Regions from separate parts of the Homo sapiens genome. Here region 1 is linked to region 2. A link means that fine-mapping ties the variant in region 2 to the expression of a gene that starts in the linked region. Tissue or cell type: lung. Region 2 holds a variant in brackets; the other region holds the start of a gene. All regions are shown on one strand. Distances are from middle to middle.

Region 1 (2,817 bases), 6.4 kb after region 2:
ACACCAGACTCTGCCCAGTGGATCAGTCATCCTGGAGATTGACTCCAACTGGGGAATGGCTCAGAGTCATCAGAACAATTTGGTCATCATGACAGGGCTTCAGCCATACTGTTCCAAATACGCCCTCATCCCAGAGCCTGACATCACTCCCGGTCTCCTCTCCAACCCTTAGACCTGTCACTGGGGTCTGACATACACAAAGCTAAGCCCACCAGGGCTAGCACCTGCTGAAGTGCCCACCATGAGCCTAAGTCTGGCTCACATCTGCACTGATGTCATCACACAACACAAAACATGGCTGTATTCATTTTACAGGGCTCTGAATGGGTAGCTGACTTCACTGAGACTATAACCTAGATCTCATGGCCTTTCCAAGTTTACACCTGCATCTTGTCATCACCTTTTCTGTCCCAAAGCACAGAGTCCATGGGTAATTTTTAGGTGTGTCAAACACCAGGCCTTGTGCCAAGGACTCAGCAAACAAAGGTAAATAGGGCACAATTTTACCCCTAAGGAGTTTGAACCTGTCATGGCAAATACATAACCATCTTTTTCAATAAAGAACAGAAACACCAAGAGGTTATGTGATTTGCCCAACACCACAGGGCTTCCTGGTGCCGCTAGGACAGGTTCTGAACTAGAACTCAGCACTCCAGACCCCGTGGAATAGTCCATTGCCAGCATTCCATGATGAGTTCACAGACTATGGAGAGGAATCACCTCTGGGGACCTACTGAGCAGACTCGGGGCAGTTGCTGACACATCCGAGAGTCAGACCTAGTTTTCTCCTTGGCTGGATCCTCTCTAAAGCCATCTCCCTGATTTTAGAGTGGGCTTTATGACCCAGGTGCATGATCAGCCTAGCTCTTGCTTTTCAAAAAGGAATTAGGGAAATGCTGAAAGACACTCGGCAAATCAATCTGTCTGATAGCAGCGTCCAGCCTGGCAGACGGACTTGTTCTCATGCACACGGCAGAGACCTGTACCAGACGACCAGCATCTGAACCCCCGAGCCTTGTCTCACCTGAGCAGGGCTCCCTTTGTCACGGTGTCAGCGGCTCCGAGCCGTGAAGGTTCTGTGCTTCCAACGAGGCTCGTCTGGGAGGCATCAGCACAGCTTTTAGCTTCCTTTAGTGAGGCAGTCGTCAAAACACTGCCGGGACTGCAGAATGAAATCTGGATTTGAGAACCCTCTGCAGGGCTGCCAGGGGTGCTTGGCACTGCCTGGCGCCACCAGCCGGTCCAGCTCCAGCCAGACTGCTGACCTGGCACTGGCGCTGCGTGATATAACTCGCTCTCACGGGGAAGGTTTAACTGTCTCTTCCCCAAGCTCGGAGTCCTCCAGTCTCTGTAGGATGCATCTCTCTGTGATGCCCCTCTTCCCACACTCCGGGCTCCTCTCTGCCAGGGTTCCAGCCGTTCAGGGACTCACAGCCCAACCCCTGTAAACATGCCAGCCAAGAATTCATCATTTTTAGCAAAGTAATTATTAATCCCAAGGCTTCTGTTGAAGTCCTTCTCTTTTATTAGTGCTGCCAATTAAAATATATTTAAGCATAAAGATATTTATAAAGAGTCTAGTGTTTTTCCGTAAATACCTATCGATTGAAATCATTTTAAAAAAAAAAAATCTAGCAACTATTCCCTTATTCCTGTATAACACATTGTTCTCATTTAATTTATATGACTTTAAGACTTCATATGGAAAGGATATAGTTGACTGGGGAGACATGGATACAAAAAAAAGTAACCATGTAGGAAATTAATAATGCACATTGGAATATTAATCATGTCGTTGGAAGAATGCAAGAGACACATAAGAGCATAGAACTGAGACTAAGGAGACCTGGAGACCTGGGTTCCAGTTCCAGAAATAACACGAAATTAACTTTAAAGATTTGTGCAAGTTACTTGGTGCCTGGACGTGAGTAGCTCCCCGGCTTTCAAGCAGTTAGGTTGGTTGATTGCCAAAGTCCTTCCCAGCATCACCATTCTAATATATATTTTTAAGCCAAAACACATATACCTGTGGTTTTTAGAGGAAGTATAATACAGCCATTAGAACCACTGAAGACTCACAGGCTTCTAATCCTCACTGCCCCTTCTTAGCTCTGTGACCCGGACAAATTTTCTACAGAGTAGACACCTCAGTATCCCCGATTACAAGATGGGAGAACATTTGCTGTTACATGAGCTGATGCGTCGCTGTTAAGAATTAAATGAGCTAATTTATGCAAAACCAGCTGGAACATTGCTTCATCTATGGTTTTGCACAATAAATGTTAACTGTTATTATTACTCTATTCAATGGTCCTAATTCTACCACAACTATCTTACTAACTTACTAGTTGGCCAGTACTGGATATGCAGTACTTACTATATTTGTGTAGGAGTCATAGTCTTCATGTAACAGGGTCCTGCTAATGCTTTCAAAGATAAGGCCACATCTCTGTGTTAGAAGACAGATTTTTGGCTTAGGGAAAAAAAAATTTATTGAACACTTACTGTATGCCAGAGTACTCTCTAAAACATTTTTTTCTATATCATCTACATGTTTCAGGGCACTATGTAAAGTGTATTCCCTTTTAATAACAATTTAAAATACTCTCAATTATAAAACAAGGTGATTCCAATGCATAAAATGTACATACTTTGCCCAAAGCTATAGATGTGGTTAGTGTTAAATCCAGGAACCAGGAAGTCTAACTCAAAGTAATTCATCATGTCAATTGCCCAAGCTAAAGGGGGATTCAAATGTATACTGCTCAGGTGGTGGGTGCACCAAAATCTCACAAATCACCACTGAAGAACTTACTC
Region 2 (2,817 bases):
TATGTATGTATGTATGTATGTATGTATGTATTTATTTAGAGACTCAGTCACATTCTGTCACCCAGGCTGGATGGAGTGCAATGGTGCAATCTCGGCTCACTACAACCTCTGCCTCCTGGGTTCAAGCGATTCTCCTGCCTCAGCCTCCGGAGTAGCTGAGATTACAGGTGCCCACCATCATGCTTGGCTAATTTTTGTATTTTTCATAGAGACAGGGTTTCATCATGTTGGTCAGGCTGGTCTCAAACTCCTGACCTCAAGTGATCCTCCCGCCTTGGCCTCCCAAAGTGCACGGATTACAGGCATGAACAAGCCACCTCACCCGGCCTCCTTTTGTGTTTATTAACGTGCAGCCTTTTTTGGGGGTTATAGCTTTTGTTGCACTGCACAGATTTCGTATTTTTTACTTCTAGCTCCTACTGTTCTGACACTGTATACTATATACTTCTCTATTTAGATTTTTGCTTCTGTAGGCTGTACACTATGATATGTCCTTCTCTTCCTTTACAGCCTGATGAACTCCTATGCATTCTTCAAAACCCATTTTAAATTATATCTTATCTCAGTACTGTTTCCTAACCATCTCCCTCAGGCAATATAAGTGATTTTTCGATCTATGCTTCTGCAGTTATCCGTACTAGAGTCCTTATTTTAGAGTATGAGTAGATTAGTTATTCTGTATTTGTGAAAGCACTTTTTGAAAAACAAAAATAAAAATGGACCAAAATAATAAACACTGAATTTTTTTTTCTGTAATAGGGTTACATTAAAGGAGATTTTTTTGTAAAACACATACTATGATAAATGTATAATTTGTTATTATGGACGAATATATTCTAACAAGATTATATATTACAATAGCTAGCAAAAATTATCTCTACATAATATGGACTTTTGACAATAAAAAAGGAACAGAAAGAGAGCGAATTAACATACAATAAACACTAAGTAAAAATAACTTTAAAATGAAAGATATTGTCATAAATATATAATGCTTAAATTGTGTTTATGAAAATGACATTTTAAAGCAAACAAATTATTAATTGCCTAATTCATTTGCTAATAATACAGATGTGGAAAAATTTCTTTCATTTTTATGTTAACGTTAGCTGAATTATTGCAGTGTATCCAAAAGCATCTTCAAGTTACGAGTGATGATAACATCTCTTCACATGAGCTCATTTTCTTTTTTAATTATGAAAATATTGTCTGCTTGTCCTGATTTTGGTTTTGCTGCTGAAATCAATATTGGCTTTGCATGTTCCAGGTTTAATCAGTTTCTGATTTTATGATGGGGAATTTCACAACCTTCATATCATCTCTTTGAGTTTCTTCCTTTGAAATATTTACAAAGAATTGAAGTCTATAATGGATACCCACACACTTGGAAAAGCCAGCAACAGGGAATGTTAACTTCGTCTTTAATTTGCATACAGTAGCACATCACGTGGCACAAAACAGCCCACTGTA[C/T]GTTGTGGCATGTGCGAATGTTTGTTCTGCACATAGAAAGTGTGCTTAAACTCCAGTGATATAACTGTGCAAACTGGAAGGTAAATAATGAACGCTGTAAAGCTCGGGGGAAGAGGAGGCTTCCTGGCAGCCGAGAGTGGGAATACAGCAGGTTGGTAAGGAATGCAGAATGGCAGGGCCAGGAAGGAAAGCCTGGGAGAGAAGCCTGGGGCAGGAATGTCGGGGAGGTGGCTCCGACTAAAGCCCACCCACCTCAGCGCTGTATTTCCGAGTCCACCAGAGTGCTCTTGTTTCCAGCACAGAACCTGGGCCCTTGGCAGCCCCCGTTGCAGCCAGCCCTGTCCCCCAAGCTCATGGCTGGGAAACCAGTCCTGTGAAGGCTGATTGCGTTTTGCTCTAGGCCTGGATAAAGGTGCCTTTTCGCTGACTCAGTAACTCAGGTGGAGCCCTTCTTCAGAAGAGTCACCTCCTCCCCTCGCTGGAGCCCCTCAGTGCATGGTGCATTTAGCTGCTTGTTTACCGGTCATTAAAGCGGTGGTTGGGGGCGGTGAGAGGAGTTGGGGAACTTGGGTCTGAAGGGTGAGGAAAGATAACATCAGCCTCCAGCTTATGACCAATTTCGAAAGCGAGGCACAGGAGTTCTGCAATTGCAAGATAGTGTGTCTTCTCTGCAGATGAGGGGCAGTGGCTCTAGTTATTCCAGCAGCATAAATTCCATCCTCCATGGCCACTCAAATACCACAGGCAGCTGAGACTTGTGTAACCTCTCCTGAGGCTTCCTCCAGAGCTGGTGCAGCGCTCTTGGCAGGAAAAGAGGAGCCAGGAGGAGTGGTTTCCAATCCTAGTTCCACCCTTAAGGAGTTGCGGGACCCTCTGCCTCATCTGTAAAGTGACACAGGCCCCTCCCTCACTGTGCTGATGAGAGATAAGCATGCTAGCAGGCAATCTGCCTGAGTGTTGGATTATTTGAATCTCAATTTCTCCCTCTTGTCTACTTTTCCTCCTGAATGAAGTAAAAAATGAAGGAAAAACAGATTGGGTGTTAAATTCTCATATGTTTAAAAAATTGTAAGGCTTCTCTTTAATTTTCCGCTTTCCCTAAACAGGCCACCACTCACCACCCCAACACCAGGCCCATTCAGTTCCGCTGTGACCTGTGGCCTGATCTCCAAGCAGCCCCTCCCAGCTGATTTTTCCAAGCCAGTATAAGGCACCAGGGTGTTCTGCCTGAACCTTGACGATAACCTCCTCATCAGTCTCACTGCTGCCATTCCTGGCTCCATAAAATCTGCACTTTCAGAGAAGCCAGTGTGATCTTCCCAAGTAGAAACGAGAGCATGGCACTAC

The links. PIP is the estimated chance that this variant, and not a neighbour inherited with it, causes the effect.
Region 1: SILC1 starts here. The variant in region 2 is the best candidate, but not a certain one, in a credible set for the expression of SILC1 in lung (TOPMed, PIP 0.63).

The regions. Positions count from the first base shown.
Region 1 is chr2:5,931,129-5,933,945 of GRCh38, reverse strand. It overlaps SILC1 (sciatic injury induced lincRNA upregulator of SOX11), which reads right to left and starts at 1,259. Exons shown (of 2, transcript NR_026832.1): 1 at 1,025-1,259.
Region 2 is chr2:5,937,481-5,940,297 of GRCh38, reverse strand. The region is part of intron 1 of SILC1 (sciatic injury induced lincRNA upregulator of SOX11); the gene reads right to left. Among named protein-coding and RNA genes, the nearest start is that of SILC1, 6.2 kb to the right of the region's middle. The variant C/T (reference allele first, on the strand shown) is at 1,471.